Linked DNA regions of Homo sapiens. The protein of the gene in region 1 interacts with the protein of each later gene in a pairwise test. Each region holds a gene or a part of one and is shown on either strand. Other genes may lie near its edges. The genes, in order: RAB29 and CSTPP1.

Region 1 (5,289 bases):
ATAGTGCGGCTTCAGCTGTGGGATATTGCAGGTAAAGTGGGAGGGCTAGATAGGAACAAGGGAAGAAATTTTGATTTAACTAGAAAGCTCTGAGGAAAAAATGGGGCAGCAAAGCCAGAAATTGTTTTTCTGAAGCTGGAATGATTGAGCTGCTCTGAGGACACATGAGCTGAATAGGTGCAGAGCTTTTGTAGATGTTTTGCCCTGAATAGATCTGGAGCAGTCTCTATGTGGATGGAGGGGCTGGCAAGGTGGTGGATTGTCCAGACTATAGGTGGACACTCCCACAGCAGGGGAGGGTGCTTTTTCTAGGTTTAAGGCTGACCTTGGTGAAAAACAAGATCCCCAGAAAATAGATACAGTAAAAATAGTGAATCCTTACTATGTGCCAAGCATTCTTCTAAGTATTTTAAATTCACTGACTCATTAATCCTCACATCAACCCTATCATAAAAGCTACTGCTTTTGGAGAATTGCTTGAACCTGGGAGGTGGAGGTTGCAGTGAGCCTAGATGGCACCACTGCACTCCAGCCTGGGCAACAGGAGTGCAGGAAACTGTTTCAAAAAAAAAAAAAAAAAGCGACTGCTTTTATCTTCACTTTACAAATGAGAAATCTGAAGCACTGAGAGCTTGATTTGCCCGAAGTCAAATAGTATGCAGCAGAGCAGGGATTTGGACTGGAGCAATCTGGGTGCGGAATCTGCCTTGGAAATAATTGGGCTTCATTATCCCTTTATGGGATAGAAAACCAAGAGTCAGAGGGGGAAAGTGAGTGGCCCCATCTGACACATATGCTTACTGCCCTCTTCTACAAGGAATGGGGAGAGGCCGGCTCTTGGGTCACCTTGAGAACTCTCCCCTTTCTCCCCAGGGCAGGAGCGCTTCACCTCTATGACACGATTGTATTATCGGGATGCCTCTGCCTGTGTTATTATGTTTGACGTTACCAATGCCACTACCTTCAGCAACAGCCAGAGGTGGAAACAGGACCTAGACAGCAAGCTCACACTACCCAATGGAGAGCCGGTGCCCTGCCTGCTCTTGGCCAACAAGGTATGTGGCCAATCTCAGAAAATGGTCCCTAGCCTCTATCTGTGGTTAGAAAGGAAGTAAAATGCTCTCTGATTCTGGGCATCCATTTCCCCTTCTTAAGTTGGCAAAATCATCTCTACCTCCTTCAAAGGATGTTGAGGGTGAGTGAGACTTTCTTTCTTTTTTTTTTTTTTGAGACGGAGTCTCGCTCTGTTGCTCAGGCTGGAGTGCAGTGGCGCGATCTCGGCTCACTGCCAGCTCTGCCTCCCAGGTTCACGCCATTCTCTTGCCTCAGCCTCCCGAGTAGCTGGGACTACAGGTGCCCACCACCACACCCAGCTAATTTTTTTGTATTTTTAGTAGAGACTGGGTTTCATTGTGTTAGCCAGGATGGTCTCGCTCTCCTGACCTCATGATCTGCCCGCCTCAGCCTCCCAAAGTGCTGGGATTACAGGCGTGAGCCACTGCGCCCAGCCAAGGGTGAGACTTTCTTTGGGAAGAATGTTGATTATAGATTTCCGATGCTGGTGTTCTTATCCATTGGTGGAAATATGTTTAAAATCCACAGTATCTGAGCCATATTCTTTCTTAGTTGCAGGAAGTTTATGATACTGCCTTTTATTTTTTCTCTTTGCTAGTGTGATCTGTCCCCTTGGGCAGTGAGCCGGGACCAGATTGACCGGTTCAGTAAAGAGAACGGTTTCACAGGTTGGACAGAAACATCAGTCAAGGAGAACAAAAATATTAATGAGGCTATGAGGTAAGTAGCTCATGCTGATAGGCATGCAGATGTATCCATCTTCCACTGTGGCCCTGTGGACCCTCTTTTCTTATTTCTGAGCCAACAATGACAGACTGAGCCATTGGAATGCTAGCCCCTAAAGGTCAGGGATACTGTCTTTCCTGAGATAACTGGGGACAAAGGGGCATTTAAACCTTCTGGCTTTACCAAATACTCTCTGATGATAAGTCAGACTACATCTGCCATTTCTGCTTTTCCTCCAAAATAAGCTTCTCAGGCTTATTTTTTGTCTTTTAGAGTCCTCATTGAAAAGATGATGAGAAATTCCACAGAAGATATCATGTCTTTGTCCACCCAAGGGGACTACATCAATCTACAAACCAAGTCCTCCAGCTGGTCCTGCTGCTAGTAGTGTTTGGCTTATTTTCCATCCCAGTTCTGGGAGGTCTTTTAAGTCTCTTCCCTTTGGTTGCCCACCTGACAATTTTATTAAGTACATTTGAATTGTCTCCTGACTACTGTCCAGTAAGGAGGCCCATTGTCACTTAGAAAAGACACCTGGAACCCATGTGCATTTCTGCATCTCCTGGATTAGCCTTTCACATGTTGCTGGCTCACATTAGTGCCAGTTAGTGCCTTCGGTGTAAGATCTTCTCATCAGCCCTCAATTTGTGATCCGGAATTTTATGAGAAGGATTAGAAATCAGCACCTGCGTTTTAGAGATCATAATTCTCACCTACTTCTGAGCTTATTTTTCCATTTGATATTCATTGATATCATGACTTCCAATTGAGAGGAAAATGAGATCAAATGTCATTTCCCAAATTTCTTGTAGGCCGTTGTTTCAGATTCTTTCTGTCTTGGAATGTAAACATCTGATTCTGGAATGCAGAAGGAGGGGGTCTGGGCATCTGTGGATTTTTGGCTACTAGAAGTGTCCCAGAAGTCACTGTATTTTTGAAACTTCTAACGTCATAATTAAGTTTCTCTTGTCTTGGCATCAAGAATAGTCAAGTTTTTTGGCCGGGCATGGTGGCTCATGCCTGTAATCCCAGCACTTGGGGAGGCCAAGGCAGGCGGATCACATGAGGCCAGGAATTCGAGACCAACCTGGTCAGCATGGCAAAACCCCGTCTCTACTAAAAGTACAAAAATTAGCCAGGCGTGATGGCACGTGTCTGTAATCCCAGCTACTCTGGAGACTGAGGTGGGAGAATCGCTTGAGACTGGGAGGCAGAGGTTGCAGTGAACCGAGATCATGCCACCGCACTTCAGCCTGGGTGACAGAGAAGGACTCCGTCTCAAAAAAAAAAGAAAAAAGAATAGTCATTTTTAAACTACCTATCTCATGCAATGAAAGCATTTTCTTCCACAAAGAGCTTAATCCTCATGATAGGATTGCCTAGTGTCTCCCATTTGCAGGTTTCTGGGTTGATGTCTTAATGCATAATACTGCAAGTGACATCAGCTGGCTGTGATGCTTCGAAATAGGTCTGCTCCTCACAGCTTTGGGAATCTGAATGGAAGAAGAAAAGAGAGAAGTTAACAACCTCCACTGGGGCAACTTTGTGAACACGTAGGCACTTAGTCATAGGAAACATATTATGTGCAGGTCCTAGCCTGGGGGAGGAAAGTAGATAGACAGAAAATCATTAGGTAATTTAAGTACTAAATTGGGCAGGGCTTTTTAGTATCAAATCACTACTAGACCATTTAATTTGTTAAATTATCTCTAGGATGGTGATTTATAACCTACCCAAAGTTATCGATATTCTTACTAAACTCTGAGGCCTGAAGTTCTGTGATAGACCTTAAATAAGTGTCCTAAGTCAGTGGTTCCCAAATCTGGCTGGTCGGGAATACCTGGGAAGTTTGTTAAAATTTTTTAAAAATGTTTTAAGATTTTTGGGTCCTGAGCCAGCCGTGGTGGCTCACACCTGTAATCCCAGCACTTTGGGAGGCTGAGGCAGGTGGATCGCCTGAGGTCAGGAGTTCAAGATCAACCTGGCCAACATACTGAAACCCCGTCTCTACTAAAAATAAGAAAAATTAGCTGGGCGTGGTGGCGGGCACCTGTAATCCCAGCTACTTGGGAGACTGAGGCAGGAGAATCGCTTGAACCTGGGAGTTAGAGGTTGCAGTGAGCTGAGATCACACCATTGCGCTTCAGCCTGGGCAACAAGAGTGAAACTCCATCTCCAAAAAAAAAAAACAAAAAGAAAAAGATTTTTGGGTCCCGACCTCAAACCTACTGAATCAGAATTTCTAGGGATGAAGCCTAGGAATGTGTTGTTGTTTTCAGAGCTTCCCTGGTGATTGTGATAAGCCTGGTTTGGAAACCATTGCTGGAGAACTTTGTAAAGATACAGAGACCCAGACCTTTTGTATTTACATTTAAATACAAATACAAATCCTGGGTTTCTATATATTCTGTTAGCTTTTCAGGTGATTCTGCTACACAGACGTTGAAAACCACTGCCCTAAGAAAGAGATCAGAGGCCACATATCAGAGAGAAAAGGGACCAAACCTTCGGTGGTTTGTTGTGTGTCGTTTTAATGCCAATTATTTTAACTTGCACAGTCTTCTGAAACCTTGTATTAATAGTTCTCTTTTGTATTACCATTTTCAGGTAGGGTTTTGATCACTATGATTCTGAAGATAATAGTGAAATAGTGAATTTCATTGATATGAAGAGATAATTGATTTTCATTCATTGGTTTGAACACCTGCAAAATCACAAATAAATGAGAACTAAGTCTTGTATTCATGGTGGTTATTGGCCTTTAATGTGAGTTTGTCAAAGTGCTGTTTTATACTGATAGCTCAAGAGGATTGCGGAAATGGAGACTTTATTTTTTAAATACCTTTTTCTAAATTTTCAATTCAAGGGGTACGTGTGCAAGTTTGTTACATGGATATATTGTGTGATGCTAAAGCTTGGGTTTCTGCTTAGCCTGTCTCCCAAGTAGTGAACATAGCACCCAGTCGGCACTTTTTCAACGCTTACTCCCTCTCTCCCCACTTTTGGGAGTCTCCAGTGTCTGTTGTTCCCATCTTTATGTGTGTGCCCAATGTTTACCTCCCACTTACAAGTGAGAAATGTGGTTAAATACCTTCTTTTAAAATGAAGGTAAATATTATTCTGTTTACCTGTTAACTTACTAATACCAATTGCTTAGATCCATCTGCCTAGTACCAATTCAGTACTTGATGGAACATGCCAAATACTACTTGGAAACGTGACCTTTTTGAAAAACTGAATGTGCTTGCTTTTCCCATTTGCTGACTCAGGATTTACCTGCCTTTTCAAGCATTGTTAGAGGCTGGCCAGCCAGCCAGCCCTTCTGGATATTCTCTCCCAACTGGTGAACATTATAGGCCTGAAACTAATTAAAGAAGGAACTGAAATATACCTAATTCCTCTTCGTGCCCCTATCCATAAGAGAAAAGCAATTATGATTAGGAAAAATAAAATATTTACATGAATGGAAATGCGATGCTACTAAAAATA
Region 2 (7,292 bases), on another chromosome or scaffold:
TCTGCCCAGTTTCCATCCATCCTCAGCCTCCCAAAAGTAACCACTATTATTGTTTTCCTGTGTATCTTTCCAGAGTTTATTATATACATAAAGGAGTATACAGTGCATACTTTTTCATTTAATACATCTTGAAGTAATTTCCGTTTCTTTTGTTTTTTCTTTTCTTTCTTTCTTGAGACAGAGTCTCACTCTGTCACCCAGGCTGGAGTGCAGTGGCACCATCTCGGCTCACTGCAACCTCCACTTCCTGGGTTCAAGCCATTCTCCTGCCCCAGCCTCTCAAGTAGCTGGAACTGCAGGCACGAGCCACCACACCTGGCTAAGTTTTTGTATTTTGGGTAGAGATAGGGTTTCTCCATGTTGCCCAGGCTGCTTTTGAACTTCCTGAGCTCAAGCGATCTGCCCACCTTGGCTTCCCAAAGTCCTGGGATTATAGGCGTGAGCCACTGCGCCTGGCCTCGAAGTAATTTCTCAGTCAGTAGGGAGCTTCTTCGTTCTTCATGAAATTCATTTTTAGCTATATAGTATTTAAATAATTTATTTAACCAGTCCCGCACTGGTAAACAAGTTGTTTTTAGCCTTTTGCTGTTACTAAGAATGCTGCAATGAATAACCTGCAGTTTTGTTCCTTTGCAAGTGTATCTGCAAGAATAAGTTCCACAAAGTGGAATTGGTGGATTAAGGGCATATGCATTGAAGTACTTATAGATATTGTCAGATTGCCCTTAATAGGTGTTGTACCATTTTGCCACCAGCAATGAAAGAGAATGCCTGTTTCCCCATTGTGCTGACAACAAAATACATCAAACTTGGATTTTTTTCAATCTAAGTGACAGATAGTCTGAGTAGATTTAATATGCATTTTTAAATGAAGTTGAGTGCCTTTTTACCAAGTTTAAGGGCTGATTGGTCTTTGAAAGCTATATATATACACATATATACATGAACATATATATAGACATATATATAGAGAGAGAGCTTAAGACAGTGACCACATCCATTAATCAGCTAAAAGGGGATATCACAGACAATTTTGTATCTAATGAATAACAGTATCAATGTCAAGCAATGCCTAGACTTTTTTCCAAAGATTTTATGTATTTTATTACCCAGTACTCAATGAATATATGAAATATTTGAAAAGGCTAGTTCATTGTTCAGTTCCTTGGGTGTTTGCTGTTTGAATTTTATGTCTCAAAGGCTTGGCAGATTTGGTGTATTGGTGCCTTGGTGAATAGAAGTTGGTGGTCTCTTCATAAATGGCGTTTTCAGGAAGGCCAATTCAGTGGCAGTGTTGAGAATGAATCTACAAACAGAATCAGAGTCTCAGGTTGGTTGAAAAAGCTTCAATGTTTGTGAAGCCCAACCAATCACCTAATAATTGAATCCTATACAAATGCTTCTTCATGCTTTGTTGCATATTTAAGTGTCTTAATTCCTTGTCCTAACCACTAACTAGACATTCATACTGCCCTCAGCATGGTCACACCCCTCACTGCCTTCTCCTGGTTCATCAAACCGTATCACTCTGCTGAAATGCGTTTGTCTTTAGTTGAGAACTATCCCTGCCTTTTACAATTTGTCTCTCTTAGAGGCATGCTGCTTTGACCTATTCACCCTCAATTTTTTTTTTCTTTTTTCTTGAGACGGAGTCTCGCTCTGTCACCCAGGCTGGAGTGCAATGATGTGATCTTGGCTCACTCCAACCTCCGCCTCCAGGGTTCAAGTGATTCTCGTGTCTCAGCCTCCCAAGTAGCTGGGATTACAGGCACCTGCCACCATGCCCAGCTAATTTTTGTATTTTTAGTAGAGACAGAGTTTCACCATGTTTGCCAGGCTGGTCTCGAACTCCTGACCTCAGGTGATCCACCCACCTTAGCCTCCCAAAGTGCTGGGATTACAGGTGTGAGCCACCACGCCTGGCCAACCTATTCACCCTCAATCTAATGACCGTTTAAAACCACTCCCTACAGAATAGATTAATAAAATATTTCCTGATTTAAATTTTTAAATACCTGTGATTTTTCCATTTGTTTTTATTTTTATACATTATAAAGTTACTTGTATGTGTAAGCCTAAAGAAGACTATACTTATAGAGAAAACAAAACTGCAGACTGGAAAGCCCTAGGCATTCAGTGAAACCCAAAAGCTAAAGTTGAGTTCCCCTTGGTTAGTGTATCTGGAGACCTCTCTTTAGGATTATGGTGTAAATTACAGGGATACCTATCCAAAGAATATCTAGAGATATCCCTTTCTCCCTGCTAGCTAGGGATTGTATTTACCTTTCTGACTATTAGTGAAGAAATCAATCTTTTATCATGTTGGGTAAACTGATCCTTTCCCCACTGACTTTGTAGATTAGGAACCTGTAATCATGGCCTTGCATGGCTTAAGATCTTAAGATCATCACTAAAGAATAGCTTAGTGATGTTCATGTCTGCAGTCATCAGAATGTAGTGATAAAAATTGTGTTAATGCCTAGGCCTGAAGAGAGAAAGGAGAGTCTGGTAAGGAGATGAAATAAGTATAGACCCTCTCTGTAGGACCCGCAAAAGGTTTCCAGCCTTATGAAACCTACTTAGTGGAAGCTTCTGCCAGAGGCTGAAGGTGTGTCTGTGTATCTGGTTGGGTGTGGCGAGCTCTCTAGAGCCAAAGGGCAGCCTGTTCTGGTCCCAGGTTTGCCAAACATACCACCTACGTGCTGACCTGAGTATAAGCATGAGGGCGTGAGGTTTATTTTTTACTCCACCTAATTTGGTGAGGTGCATGCTTTCACTCACGCTCCAAGTTGCCTCTTCTTTTCCATGGAACCTGCTTATTCTCACTACGGTTGATAGTGGGTTAGTATAATAGATAACTCTAGAAATCAAAGATGGCCTTTCTCCTTTGGGGACTAGACATTTAGAAGAATCACAATAAATTGGGTAGTTTTTTTTTTAAGCTATAGTTTTTGAACTCTTCCTATATGCCTGGCACTGTGGTTTATCTCATTTAATTTTCACAACTACCATATGAAGTGGGTACTCTTACTGGTCCCAATTAGTAGTTATTAATATCATCTTCTCATTTTATAAATAAGGAAGCTGAGGCTTAGAAAGGCTAATTGATTTGCACAAGGTCACACAGGCAATGATGCATAGTAAACAGGGGTTCATACCCAGGTTTGTCATATTCCACAGCTTGTGTTTTTTCCTCTTCACTAAAAAGATAAAAACAAACCAAAAAACCCCTATTGGTTCAAAGGGCAGTAATTCTTGCTTCCTTATTAAGGATGAGGCTCTTGCAAATAAATTTCTTGGGAACAAGAATTGTGTTTTACTCATCATTGTCAACCTTCTATCATTGTCTACCTTCTATCACTGTATACCTTCTATCATTGTATACTCTCCTACACTTAATTCATACGTATATGTGAAATGGAATATGAATAATCTGACCTTAGGGTACCCTAAACATGAGTAGCTAACAAAAGCAACCGAGACTTATTAAGAACTTACTCTGTACCAGGTACCATTTTAAATGCTTTACATATATTGATGTATATGAAGATAGTTTCAGTTGTTATCTCCATTCGGCAGATGAGGAAACTACACACAAAGATACCAAATAACAAGTTGTAAGTGGTGGATCCAGAATTCTAACCCAGCAGTCTAATTGAAGTCCACATGGTTAAACTCTATGCTATAAATACTTTGAGCAACTCCCAAAGTGGGGCTCCAACTATTGTGTAGACCTATACGTGGATCCTGGAGTAAGGTCAAGTGATTCCAGTGTCTTCATTTAACATTTCTGCCATGAGGAGGCATCCGAGGAATGAGGATGGATCAGGGAATGGTAAAATTTCCAATTTCTTCTTGCCACTGGACTCATCTCTCAGAGGCAGGCAGTGAGGAAGATAACTTCTACCATTTGGGAGAATTTTATTGACAATCATCTTTGTACTTTGGGTAGCTGTATGACCTAGAAGAAATCACTTAACCTCTCTGTGCCTTAGTTTCCACATCTCCAAAATGTGGGTGGTAATAGTACAGTCATGGTGGCTTACGCCTATATTCCCAGCACTGTGGGAGGCCAAGGAGGGAGGATTGCTTGAGCCCAGGAGTTTGAGACCAATGGGACATAGTGAGACTTCGTCTCTACTAAAAATAAAAAAAAAATAGCTGGGTGCAACAGCATGCATCTGTAGTCCCAGTTACTCAGGAGGCGGAGGTGGGAGGATGGCTTGAGCCCAGGAGGTCAAGGCTGCAGTGAGCTGTTTTCACACCACTGCACTCCAGCCTGGGTGACAAAGTGAGACCCTTTCTCAAAAAATTTAAAAAAGGCCAGGCATGGTGGCTCATGCCTATAATCCCAGCATTTTGGGAGGCCGAGGCGGGTGGATCACCTGAGGTCAGGAGTTCGAGACCAGCCTGGCCAAAATGGTGAAACCCCATCTCTACTAAAAATGCAAAAATTAGCAGAGCGTGGGGGTGTGTTCCTATAGTCCCAGCTACTCAGGAGGTTGAGACACGAGAATTGCTTGAACCCGGGAGGAGGAGGCTGCAGTGAGCTGAAATCTCACCACTGCACTCCAGCCTGGGTGACAGAGTGAGACTGCTTCTCAAAAAAAAAAAAAAAAAAATTGTGCTTGCCTCATACATGTAAGCATTTATCCTGTTAGAGCACCTGTGTAGGTGCTCAATAAATATTAGCTGCTAGTGTTATTACCATATTTTTGTGCAAATACGTAAACATCTGGTGGCAACCAGGAATGTGTGCCTCTCAGATCTCCTACACTGGGGAGGGGAGGGTAATTGACTCCTGACCCCAGCTCTGAATCTAACACCTTGTTCACACTGAGGTCACACTTTCCACAGACTGCTCCTAGTCAATGACTGGGCAGGACAGACCCACTTCCATGAGATGTTTTACTCCTCTAGTGGGTGACTTTGGCTTAAAGACTCTCACTGCACACTGCTAAGTCCCTCATTCTCCCTTCTCCCTCCTAAAGGAGGGATAATAATTAGGGTCCCTCCTAAAGGAGGGATAATAAATTAGGGTCACACCTGCATTTGATCTCTTAGCTCTCCCAGACTCCTCCGGCTTCCTTCCCATTTTCTATCATGGGCGTTTCCCCCAGTACATCTCTCGCATGTCTGATCCTGTTTTGGTGTCTGTTTCTCACAGTATCTGAGCTAAGACAACATCTAACAGTTACTGATATAGTCTCTTCCAGCCATGAGGTTAATACAACTTCTTTAGGACTTGGCAAAGGTTCTGACATAGGACCCCTTCTATGTGGAAGATAAGTGTTACTAATCTTAATTTTTTTTGTATTTGCTGATACCACAGCATATGATAGTTACTTGTCTGACTTCCAGACACATTCTATTTTTTGATTTTGAATGAATCCTGATAAACTTATTTTTATTTGAATATAACTAGTGAGCCTTCCAAACCCAATTCTATTCTAGGAAATATTGCTGTTTACAGTAAGTTAGCAGAAATTCTCTTAGGGCCTTAAAGTGTTTGGTTGCTGCAGAAAGGAAATGAAATAAAATAGGTGTTAAACTGACTTCCTAAATCTTTGGAAACTAGGTTTATAATACATAAAACTGGTCACTTTGAAATGATTATGGGCCAGGTGCGGTGGCTCATGCCTGTAATCCCAGCATTTTGGAAGGCTGAGGCGGGCAGATCACTTGAGGTCAGGAGTTCGAGACCAGCTTGGCCAACATGGTGAAACCCTGTCTCTACTAAAAATATGAAAAATAGCTGGGCATGGTGGTGCGCACCTGGAGTCCCAGCTACTTGGGAGGCTGAGGCATGAGAATCGCTTGAACCCGGGAGGCAGAGGTTGCAGTCCACTGAGATCACGCCAGTGCACTCCAGCCTGGGCGACAGAGCAAGACTCTGTCTCAAAATAATAATAATAAATAAATAAAATAATTATGAACATGTTCACAAAGTCACCTCTTTCTTTCCTTTTCCTCCCCCTACCCTTCTCCTTCCTTTTCTTCCTCCCTGAATACCTTCTCTATATAAAGCCAGGCATGAATATATGAATATAAAGCATCCCTCCCCACAGGAAACTTACACAGTAGATGGGAGATGGGACATATTCATAAATGACCATAACATAAAAAGACAGTATAATAAGTAAAGAGTATGTGACCTATATGGTTCTAGAGCCAGCAGCTATCTTGGCCTTTTCTCAGTTTGGTCAGCAGCTTCTCAGTCATGGAAGGGACAGCAGTTCCCTTGGTAGCCTAGTTCTGGAATGGGCCTTTTGGGAGTTGTTCCTGGAAGGTCGATCTAGATTTTTTTCCTTTTCCAAAGATTCTGTAACCTATTTAATACATGTAATAAATAAATATCTTTTTGTTGGGGGGAAAAAAGAGCCAGTAAGTTCTAAGCCATGTTGTTCCCAACCCTTGCCTACCTCCATTTCTCCAAAGTAAATTGCAGAGTGATGTCAGTGTTATTCTGGGGTTTTAAGATAGCTTTAAAATTTTTGACTTTGTTTATCATTTATATATTCAAGTAATGTTAAAATCTTTATTCCAAATGCTATTCAGAAGTTGGGGATCACTTTTATTTGCACAAATGCAATATGTGCTAAATGAATAATTCTAGGAGGCCGAGTAGATAAATTGAAGTTTTAAAAATAATAGTAGAGCAGGCCGGGAGCAGTGGCTCAACGCCTGTAATCCCAGCACTTTGGGAGGCCAAGGCGGGTGGATCACGAGGTCAGGAGATCGAGACCATCCTGGCTAACACGGTGAAACCCTGTCTCTACTAAAAATACAAAAAATTAGCCGGGCGTGGTGGCAGGCGCCTGTAGTCCCAGCTACTCGCGAGGCTGAGGCAGGAGAATGGTGTGAACCCGGGAGGCGGAGCTTGCAGTGAGCCGAGATTGCACCACGGCACTCCAGCCTGGGCGACAGAGCGAGACTCCATCTCAAAAATAAGTAAATAAATAAAAATAATAGTAGAGCAGAAGAGACATGATCCATTATCCTATTTCTGGTTCATCATCCTATTTATGTCCTTCATAGCACTTATCAGAGTTATCTTGTGTACCTACTTGTATACTTGGTTATTGTCTGTTTCTTATTAGAATGTGAGCCATGAGGGCAGGCCTTTTCTCTCTAAAATCTAGCACAATGCTTGGCCCAAATGAAGTGCTCAGTTGTTGAATGAATGGTCTACTTTAAGTAACAGAATAAATTTTAAAATAAATGGGAGAAAGGAATCCAGTTCAACAAATAGTTACTGAATTCCTAACATGTGAGAGAAACTATGTTTTTCC

Evidence for each region.
Region 2: the proteins of RAB29 (region 1) and CSTPP1 interact in a two-hybrid assay, tested with the Homo sapiens proteins (2 studies listed by BioGRID and IntAct).

The regions. Positions count from the first base shown.
Region 1 is NC_000001.11:205,767,238-205,772,526, reverse strand, and holds the end of RAB29 (ras-related protein Rab-7L1), read left to right. Parts: coding exon 1-31; intron 32-873; coding exon 874-1,055; intron 1,056-1,672; coding exon 1,673-1,794; intron 1,795-2,073; coding exon 2,074-2,185; 3' UTR 2,186-4,541; downstream 4,542-5,289. UniProt on the Homo sapiens protein: The small GTPases Rab are key regulators in vesicle trafficking. Essential for maintaining the integrity of the endosome-trans-Golgi network structure.
Region 2 is NC_000011.10:46,939,715-46,947,006, forward strand, and holds part of CSTPP1 (centriolar satellite-associated tubulin polyglutamylase complex regulator 1), read left to right. Parts: intron 1-7,292. UniProt on the Homo sapiens protein: Regulator of the tubulin polyglutamylase complex (TPGC) that controls cytoskeletal organization, nuclear shape, and cilium disassembly by balancing microtubule and actin assembly.